Linked DNA regions of Homo sapiens: region 2 is linked to region 1. Evidence: fine-mapped expression QTL. A gene starts in region 1. The other region holds a variant in brackets. All regions are shown on one strand. Distances are from middle to middle.

The links. PIP is the estimated chance that this variant, and not a neighbour inherited with it, causes the effect. A credible set is the group of variants that fine-mapping cannot tell apart.
Region 2: its variant is the best candidate, but not a certain one, in a credible set for the expression of APMAP in whole blood (TOPMed, PIP 0.83).

Annotation. Positions count from the first base shown.
Region 1 is chr20:24,989,567-24,994,937 of GRCh38, forward strand. APMAP (adipocyte plasma membrane associated protein) reads right to left here and starts at 3,185. Exons shown (of 9, transcript NM_020531.3): 1 at 3,028-3,185. The coding sequence starts at 3,122. RefSeq lists enhancers at 2,738-3,238, 2,797-2,856, 2,877-2,956, 3,087-3,326, 3,239-3,739.
Region 2 is chr20:24,952,681-24,958,051 of GRCh38, forward strand. It overlaps CST7 (cystatin F), which reads left to right. Exons shown (of 4, transcript NM_003650.4): 2 at 4,607-4,779. Among named protein-coding and RNA genes, the nearest start is that of CST7, 6.1 kb to the left of the region's middle. RefSeq lists an enhancer at 2,568-2,697. The variant T/G (reference allele first, on the strand shown) is at 2,510.

The DNA.
Region 1 (5,371 bases):
ATCCATGGGGTACCAGCAACCTCATGTGTCAAGGTGATCCCTGGAACCTGAGAAAATCAGATAGCATCAACCCATCTTTTTTAGTGACAGCATCTTGAATTTGTTCATTTTTCACAATCCTTTAAACTGGGGCTCCTAGATTCATCAATTTATCCTTGAAAAAAATTAAGAAATCAAGAAACAAGTTTAAAAAGCCATCTGAAAATACACACCTGGGGCAAAGCTGAGACAAACACTCCAGCTGCCTTACTCCTCATGAATTCGTGAATGCCCAATCTGTTTCTCCATACTTCCTCCCTTACTCTTCAGTCTCCAAGAGGAAAAAGGAAAATGGACCTAGCAGACTTTTAATTAAACTAAAATCCTTCAGAAGTTTATTGAAAAAGGAGAATTATACAGAATTTAATGTATTGAAACATATTAAATCCTCAATGTATTTATTCTGCATCCCTAAACAGTCACATATGGACATTAAACAGTTCTCTTCCTAGATAGAACTGTGTTTCAAACAGAAAGGAATAGTTCCACAGAGTACAATTAAGTTTCTAAAGCATTTCGGGAAATCAATGTCAAATAATAATTATAAGCTTGCACCGGTATGTTAAAGTACTTAGCTCATCTATGTTCCACACTGAATAAAAGAATTTACCAACCAAATTCTCCATTATATTTCAAATACAGTAATTCAAGAGCTTTGGCATAAAGTCTTATTTCCAAAGCATAATTTTAAAAATACACTTCTCAGTCATTGTCCAGCTGCCAGTTCTATCCTTCTTCATTCATTTTCATTTCTCTTTTGACTCTATTCTCTGTAACTTCATATAAACCACCTCACACACATAGACCTCAATGATCTCATCAGCAAAACAAAGCAAACACCCACCTTTTGTGCCAAGAGTTGGGAGACCACCCAACGTATTACTAGGGGTCCCTACCACTGCTAAAATCTATGTCTTAGTTCTGTCAGTTTAGTAATATGTCTTTCAAGGCTTCCTTTATTCTATTTAGCACATCTAAAGTGCTAAAGTTTATTCTAATAGTTTCGTGTTTTTACTTCTGAATTTAGATTCCTTTACTTCGCCCACTATACACAGGCTTTCCTGGCTTATGTTGAACCCTCGACTTTTAAGGTAATCAAGAATACTATTACATGAACTACTAGAAATGACCACAAAATAAATGAAAAATATAGGAGAAATGCAGAAGAAAAATAAGAAAAACAGCTACCATGTTACAATAATAATTGCGGAAAGGAAGGGTGGTGACAAGACCTCACTTTGAAAGAGATCATTACAGATATACAGAAAAGGGATAAACAAACAAGAAGGACAAACACAGGGAAACAGGAACAATGTTCATGGACAGGGAAGTCAAGGAAATAAGTAAACATAAATGTAAAAGGCACACTGGAAAAGATCAGGCAGTAAAAGATGACTTTAGAATCAGATTTACTTACTCATTAAGGAAGAAATCCCCACAGAGAACCTGAAAAAAACAATTAAGTCTGCCTGCTTGCCCTGGGGCCAGAAGTGTGAGCCAGCCAACTTGAGAGTTGGGACTACCTAACCGGTGCCCTCAGGGGCTGTAGGCCCTGGTTTTCAACACACTGCACCTAATGACAAACTCAGGCCACTGCTCTTCCATTTCTCAGGTAAAAATGCCTTGTTTTCAAGATTTCTGTAGGAAAGTGTTGCCAATTCTTGCATGTCCATTCTAAATGGCTCCTCAATCATCAACAGATGATTAATTCACAATATTCACAGTAAGTAGGGTGATCAGATTGTCCCAGTTTGCCCAGGTTTAGCACTGAAAGTTCTACATCCTTGGAAACCCCAGTCCAGGGCAACGCAGGATGGTTGGTCAGGATATATGGGAGCATCTTCCCGATCTTTTCACTGGCCCAAGGAGTCAACTATCACCGCAAAGTCTTCTCTCTAAATTGCCTCTCTAGAGCCTAAATGCTCCTTCCTGCCATCGCTCTCCTTCAAATGTGTTCCTCTTATCATCAGTCAATAAACTCAGTCTACAGGGGCAAAAACTGCCTCTCATTCATATGTACCCCACCACCTCTTGGCACACTACTGATGAACAAATATTTCCAGTATTTCTATCAAATATAAGTCAATCAGTCCCACAACTTCAAGCTTGGTCTATGGGGCCTCTTGATTCTCCCTGAAACTTAAAAGTTATGAAATTCAGGACACAGAATTGAAAAGTGAATTTTAAGTATCTTATATTGAAATCTATGCTTACGAATCATGATTCAGTTTTTAGCTAACAAAACACAGCATTCTTATATTCTGAAAGATGGGAGAGGAGGCAAAGGGCAAAACCTGATATTTCTTAGGTGTCAACAACTACAGTTTCCTATGTTTCTCCATCCCTATCAGGAAAAACTGCCAGGCTGAATTCTCACAAAAATTGCCTACAATGTCACTACTGTTCTCCACTCTTTCCAAGAACCGCGGTGAGGACTGGTCACGCAGCGTGAGGGGGGCAGGTGCAGAAGAGCAAGTGTAGAAGCCATCTCTTCGCCGGATAACGAGGCAGGACCCCAGCATCTCGTGGGACCTCCTCCCTTCGGGAAATTGCGAGCGGGGAACCAGGAACACGCAGGGCCCCGGCCAAGTAGCTGTGCTCAGGGGGATCATTTAAGCCAAAGGAAGGACAGCGCGAGGGGAGCGAGGGAAAGGCGAGGAAGCAACCGCTATGCAGGGTGGGGCAGGAGTGAGGGAGGGAAGGCAAAGGAGCGGCGCGAGGCGGTCTCGGGTCCGGAGAGCCGAGGACAACGCGGCGACTGGGCGCAGGGTGCACCCGAACCTGAAAGACCTGGCAGGTACATCCGCCTTGTCGGAGCCTGCTTCCTCGGAAAAATGAGTTTTTCTTGGGGATGAAACGAGAGGACTCTGACAACGCGCTCGGCACCGCATCCCCAGGTTACTGTTACTGCCGTCGCCGCTGTCCAAGAGGGTCGCCCTCCACTCCTAGCGGCCCGGCTCCAGCGCCCAGTCTGGGAGTCCGCCCTACCTGCCGTCCTTAGCCTCCGGGGCCTGGCCATCATCGTCTGTGACGACCTGCGGCCGCAGGGGCCGGCGCTGTCGCAGCCCGTCCGCCTCGCTCATGGTACGGGCGCCAGCCTCACCCGCAGAAACCACCTCACACTGAGCGGCGCCGGCTCAGACTCCAGGCCCGCCCTCCCCCGTACGCGGAAATGACGTTGCGCCCAGGGACCATTCCGCAGCGTTCTCCCCGCCCCTTCCGGCCTCATGGGCGGGAGGTCCCCGGCGCGTCGTTGCTCGGCGCTCTGAGGCTAATTCTGACCGCCCGGAAGTGGGGCTCGGAACCCGCTCAGAGATAGCACCGGGAGCTGCCGGGGTCCCCGCCTGTCTCGGACTCCGGGGCCCAGAACGCGAGTGGTTCAACCTCGGGCTCGTCTAGCCCAGTGCCTGCGCATGCCGCCTTCGTCTCACGTTTCTGAGGACGGGGATGCTCATGACGCACTTGGGAATTGCTAGCACGAGATGTTGGCCACTTTTATCGTTGGAGAGGATAGCGCTGTTTATTCAGTGTCAGCGACCCTGCTCTTACAGGCAGCGTCAAAAATAATGCATTCACACCCTTGGAACGAAGTCACCTCTGCCTGAAAATTACATCCTTCCCCGACTCAGCCGGTTAAGGGGAAAACTTGGGCTAGAAAATGTTTCCCTCTGGTTAAGGCCAGATGTTGAGTATTAAATCTTTTTGTGACGATTACAACAGACATTTGATAAAGTTTATTAAGTTTTGATAAAGTTTATTAAGTTTTGATAAAGTTTATTAAGGATTACCCTTAAGTAAAGTCCAGGTAGAAGTAGAAATTATCACTAACAAAGTTTAAGAAAGCATAGAGAGGCATTGTTCTTTCAACAGTATTGCAGGAAACCAGAAATGTTCCCAGGTGCTGGGAGACGATGGTGGGCAAATCACAGACAAGGCCCCTCCTTATAGAAATTAAACTAGTGGGAAAGATGACTTTAATCAGATCATCATCATAAAATAGACGTAAAATTATCAAACGTAATAATTGCTTCAAAAGGGAAGAGCTGAATCTTGTGAGAGCATTTGAGATTCAAAGAGGAATCGAATCTGGAGGAAGTGACAGGCAGAAGAAATCAAAGCCCGTTACCAGTGGCACGAGGAATTATCTCTGGAAAAGCCATGTTCAAAATGCAGTGTTAAGAAATAATTTCCTCTTGGAGGCTTTTACCTTTTTAAATGCTAGATGGCACTAGAATTCCATGTGAATGCTTTTTATTTATTCATTCAAAGAGCGGAAGAACCAGCTTGAGGGAAGTGGAGAGCTGTGCAAATCCAGTTCTCCAGAGATCCCAGGTAATAATTCAGGCCTCGACAACATTTTACTTCATTCTGTGTCATTGAGAATAGCCAATACAGCTATTAAATCAGGGATAGTGTTAACAAAGTACTGTATGATCTCACGCCTTCCTGCCTGTCTGGACTATCCCTCTTGCTCCCCACCCCCCATTTCAGACATTCAGGATGGCTTAACATGTCTAATCTCATGCCTGGCTGCCTTTGTCCTTGAGGTTCCTTCTTCCTGTGATACACTCTCCTTCACCTCCACTTGGCCAATTATTTTTATCATTCAGGACCCACTTCAAGTATCCTTGCTGAAAATTCTTCTCCCAGTTTCCCAAGCAGAACATCTTCCTCTTTGTCTTCAAGGCACTTTAAACATGTCCCAGCCATAACATTGAACTCACTGCATTGGAGCTATTTGTGTTCCATGCCCAGTGTTAAAGCCCACGCACTGCAAACACCCAGGGACACATTCAGAAGAAAAATAATGGCAGTAAGTTGGGTTTACTGAACTTGCTGCAGCAAAGAAATGCACCAGAGGACCGGTGAGGTTCCTCAAAATGGGGGAGTCATGGGAGACTCCTTGTGGGGTTTGGGGGCTGGAGTTAGTCCATCGATAGTCTTGCCCAGGGTTGGTCAGAATCCGTTAACAACGGGAGTCACTGGAGGAACCGTGGCCTTAGCTCTGGGACATGTAAGTCCATTCGGAGTTATCAGGAGGTCAGCTCGTGGGCTTATCATGAAGCACGTAGGTAGTTGGTGTTACAGTGGTCTGAGCTAGATCATTTGTGCTGCATAGCACGGGTTCAGTACAGTTTTTCTGTTTTCAAGTCACGGTGAAGCACGCTTTGCTTGTTGTATTTGTTTCAGTTATCAGTTCTCCCACCCCACCTTCCAACCAGACCGACTTTGTTTCTCATCGTGCTGATGCCAGTTGTTGGCAGAGGAATGGGACCACTATGATTAATTTGATCAGGTTTCTCAGCACCACTGATATTTTGGGCCAGATAAT
Region 2 (5,371 bases), 37 kb before region 1:
TCTCCCCACCCAGCTCAGTACTGGCCCATGGAAAGGGCACCCCCTGAGGTGACACAGGGAGGGACACCAGCAGGGACCATCTGCGTCCAGCTCTCGGCACCCAGGTCCCCATCTCAGGGATGGTTTCACAAGCAGGGGCTTCCCAACCTCCCGGCCACACCTAGAACACTCCTGAAAGAGGGAGGAGGTGGGCAATGCCAGCCCCCGCTGTGCCCACCCATTTTCCTACTAAAGGCAGGTGGGAAGGGTCTGCCTGGTGCCACCACAGCGATCCCTGCCCATGTTTTCTCTCCTCAGGTTGGCTTAGTGCCAGCTCTGCCACTGGGCCTATGCTCTGAGGACAGGAACGTACCCTGCCCAGGGCATGCCCAGCAGCTGTCAGAAACTGCAGCTCCCTGCTGCCTTGGGCAGAGGCCCTGGCAACTCCCCTGGCCTGGCAGCTTCACATCTGCACCCCATTGCACACTGGTCCTCGGGCACCCGGACAGGACTTTGCCCCATGCACACAGCCAGTAGATGCTCAGAAACACGGGGCTGCAGCAGAAAAGCAGGGTGATCGCAGGATCACCAGACAAGGAGATGGAGGAAACTCAAATCCATCTCCCCGAGGAGGCTGGGGCCCGGGTTTTTAAGGGTTCTGGAGCTCGATAGCTGGAAGGGGCAGCGTGATGTCACAGCACAGGGAGAGGAAGAAGCTGTATTTTCGTGATGATCCTGTTCCTCCGTGGGGGGTTTCCAAACTGGTTGCTGGAATTGGGATCTGAAAAACATCTTGGGCCAGCAGCAGCCTGATTCAAGCTTAATTATGAGTATCTTTCTGTCCAGAACCTGGCATGCAATTCTTGTCAACCTTAGGGGACAGTTTCATTTGCCTTCCTGTGACCATGTGTCCTGGGGCCTGCTCAGCACCTGGTATCATCAGGCCCTGCCCGCCCCTGCCTCACCTCCAGCTTCTACGTCTGGAAGCTCCCTACCTGTCTCAGGCATGGCCCACCTCCCCTCCCACCCCGCATTAGAAGCAGTGGTGGGCTGGGGTCAGGCTGCCCCGGCAGGCTCCTGGTGCGAGCCTCGCACATGGCAGGTCCCCCATTCCCCTCGAGCAGGCCTGGCCTGCCCCAGGCATTGTTTCTATACAGACGGATTTTATGTGCCTTTTGTTTCTTCTCACAAGCCTGACGGTCCGTGGGTTCTTTCCGTTGACGTCATCGCGGCCATCACCACCATCACCCTCTGCACCCAGCAGCAGCCTCCAGCGGGGTCTCCCCAACTCTTCCCAGCACGTAGCTCCCTCCTCCCCTAGGCCAGTTCAGCCACCTTGCAGCTGCTCCCCCATCCCCTGCCCCTCTGCTCACCCATTTTACCCTCAGGTTGGTGTCCTCTCCTGTGCCCCAGGCCTGCTCTGCCTCCCCACCACTGTGGGCGGGGCCTGTCTTAGAGTCCACCCTGCATCTCCCCTAGCACCTGCCAAACAGTCCGTCTTGAATGAGGAAAAAGTGAGAGTGGTGTTTCGAATTAGTCACACCTGGGTTTAGCCCCCCACCCTGCACTCCAAGCTCTTGGTCTCCTCGCCTGCAGAATGGGCACACATGAGAAGAAACAGCATCGCAGGGCCCTCCAGACAGAGCAGGCAGAGGAGGAGAGCACCCATTCTCCCGCTCCCTGCCTTCAGTTGCACGGAGCAAACCCAGAGCCCCCTCCCTGGGGGGTCCTCTTCACAGTTCCTTGACTCCATCGGAGGCTCTCAAAGAGCTGCATTCGCTCACCACCTGCTGGACTGCTTGTTTTCTTCCCTGAAGATGAGTGGCCTCTTTGGGGTGTTAATTCTTAATGATCAACATTTCCTTGTTAATTTCTCTAAACAAATCATCCTAAAAATAGGTTTGACTTTTAAACAATTTTAAATTAAAAACTGAGCTTTTAATATCTGTTTAGACAACTGTAAGACAGTGAAAGGTTTATTGACTTGAAGCCTACATTTTAGGAAACATGTAGTTAAATAAAAAATACCAATTTCAGTATTTTTCATAACCTTTTTGTAACTTTACCACAATCTTTTAGGAACTAACGTCATGAGCTTGGAAGGGAAATTTATTTGAAGTTCAGCGTAAACTGAGTTTCACTTCATTTTTAAAATTCTGTTAATCTCAAGCAAAAGTAAATACATTTTATTTTTTAAAAAAGTTAATAGTGGTTAGCTTTAAGATATTAAAAATAATTATTTTTTGTTATGCTCCTCTGTATTTTTCAAATTTCTACCAAAAATAGGTAAGTTTATAGTCAGAAAAAGCCATAAAATGTAGTTTTTACAAAGAAAACAATGGACAGCCATATTAATGTAATGTGAGGAAAGAAAGCAAAACAACAACAACAACAACAAAAAAAAACGCTAATCTGACAGCAAAAATACACTGAACACATGCTACCCCTTCCATACACGTGTCTCTTTCTCTGCTGTTCAGATGACAGTGATGAGCTGAAACCAAGCTGGTTTCCAGAACAGTTTTTTGTT[T/G]TAACTAAAAGCCACATTCAACTTCCTGTCATCAACAAGCACAAGGACCAGAAGGAGCTGCCTTTGGCTCTGGGGACCCCTCCTTCCTGATGGTAACACTGCAGGTCCCAAGGGACCCCTCACTGCCAACACCAGTGTCAGAGTCACCTGAGAGCCTGGGGAAATGCAGGTTCCAGGACCTCCCCTAGATGGCCAAGCTCAGCCCCTGGTGCTCAGGAACAGAGCGGTTTCTATTCCATCTTCAGAGGCCTAAAGTCTTTTTTTTTTTTTTTTTTTCTGAGACGGAGTCTCGCTCTGTTGCCCAGGCTGGAGTGCAGTGGCGCGATCTCGGCTCACTGCAAGCTCCGCCTCCCGGGTTCACGCCATTCTCCTGCCTCATCCTCCCGAGTACCTGGGACTACAGGTGCCCGCCACCATGTCCAGCTAATTTTTTGTATTTTTAGTAGAGACCAGGTTTCACCGTGTTTGCCAGGATGGCCTCGATCTCCTGACCTCGTGATCTGCCCGCCTCGGCCTCCCAAAGTGCTGGGATTACAGACGTGAGCCACCTAAAGTCTTCTTAAGCAAAGGCTGCAGCAGTTTCAGGGGGGATGTGTGTGACACTAATTAGTGTGAAGGACAGTCCCAGGGCATGCCAGCGCAGGACACAGCTATCCACCAGCACACAGGACCAGCACGTGGCCAGCATTCTCTATGGGGTGGGGCACCAGCACTGCGCTGCTTTTTTGGGATGGAAGGCCAGGCTCCCTGGGCTGCTAAAGCACAAGGCAGGCACAGTCATCCAAAGCCCAGCCATGAAGCTCACCTTCTGGCCCAGAACCAACCACGGGACAGCCATTTGCCAGGTGGCCTCCCTTCACAATGGAGACTCTTTACCGGGATGGGGCGACAATCCCAAGGCCACAGAACTTCCAGTCCCATGCTTCTCTGCCCACTCCCGGCGCTGCACCACCCAGCCTGGGGGTGCCACGTGGTGACCAGAAACCTCGTCATCCTGTCTACCCTTGGTGGGGTCTGGTGTGCACCCACAGACATCCAGGACCCAGGAAAGGCCTCTTGCAGACCTCACACAGCAGTGGGAATGGCCTCCTCTGGGGCCCTCGCTCTGAGTTGACACTGACGTCCTGGCAAGGCCTCCCTGCAGTGCCCAGCTATGAAGCCTGTCCCCTCCCATTCCCCAATCACCCTGCCCTCAACACCCTGGGGCCCAGCTTTCCATCCAGTCCATAGCAGGCACAAAGACGCACGTCCTGCAGCCTCAGGCACAGATACTAGGGGACATGACTGTGGGGGAGGCCCCCGATGCTGCTTCCCCATCTTTTATCCAAATATAGCCCTCCTTGGTACAGGAAGGGCAGGCCTCCCCGACCCCAACGAAGCTTGGGGACACAGTGCACTGTCACTCATAGGAGTGAAAAAGACTGTCCCTGGAAAGTCAGGAGGCAGCGCAGGGGTACCAAGTGCTGCAGGCTGCCAGGAGGGGTGCCCTCCTGGGGGCTGGGCCTGAGACTGAGAGCCAGGCGGGCAAAAGGTCTTGAGACGAGGACGGCGCCATCTCCTTCCGGTGGGAGGCACTACCTCCATCTACCGCCCAGAGGGCCAGGCTGGGGTTGACTTTCCCTACATCCTAAGGCTACATCCCGTACTGAGGATCTCACCTGTGGGACATGTTCCGCTTTTAACACTTACGTTGGAAATAACCCTGGGTTCTGAAAGTGGGGGACAGGTTCATTGCACCCCCTGGCACCTGGTCCTCAGCTCTGAAAATGGAGCAATAAATGCACTGCAGGGGTGTCGGGGGGGACAGGTGAGGGGGCAGGTGAGGGGGGCAGGTGAGGGGAGCAGGTGAGAGGGGGCAGGTGAGGGAGAACAGGTGAGGGGGCAGGTGAGGGGGGCAGGTTAGGGGTGGGTAGGGTGGGGGCAGGTAAGCAGGGACAGGTGACAGGGGTAGGTAAGAGGGGGAGCAGGTGAGGGGTGGGTAGGGCCAGGACACACACGCCAGCAGAGAACTGAGCATCACAGAGGCATGAGGCGTGACACCTGGACTGAAGGCCCCACTAACATCAGTGTTCTTGTCTGGCTCTTTGTCTCTTTCAGATACTTGTTCCCAGGACCTTAACTCACGTGTGAAGCCAGGATTTCCTAAAACAATAAAGACCAATGACCCAGGAGTCCTCCAAGCAGCCAGATACAGTGTTGAAAAGTTCAACAACTGCACGAACGACATGTTCTTGTTCAAGGAGTCCCGCATCACAAGGGCCCTAGTTCAGGTAACGGTCTGGGTTCTGGTCACATATCACGGACACCCCTAGGAAGCCGAGCTGCTACAACGCGACACCTAGGAGAGCAGGGCGGATATAATGTGAAGTCCCTGCTGAGTGCAGAGCTCTGAGCAGAAAGCAGATGCACAAGGGGTGGGAGTGGACAGCAGCAGCTGAGGCCAGCATCCCCCAGGGCCAAGCGCAAAGGTTACACAAAGCACACGGCTCCTGGGTGGTTACCAGGCCCCTGGCCCAGAGCCTACTAGGCATGGGGTAAGGAGGTGCCAGGGCCCTAATGGGGCTCCTGAGGCAGGCGCCAAGGCTGATGGGGGAGAAAGCCGCTGTCCGAGGAGCTGCCCCTGCTGGGACCAGGGTCCTCACCCGGCCTCACCCCTCACGTGCCCTGCAGCCCAGAGGTGTCTTTGCCACTTTCCCCCTGGAGTGCTCACTCACATCCCAGAGTCCAAGAGCTCTGCCCAAGCCACTGCCCTTTCCCTGACTCATTCCTACTGCGCCCGCTCAGCACCCTCCCTCCTAGAGGACCCTTGTCTGTGTCCTGAGAACACCCACTTGCTAATGTGGGATGCAGGCTGTGGATGAC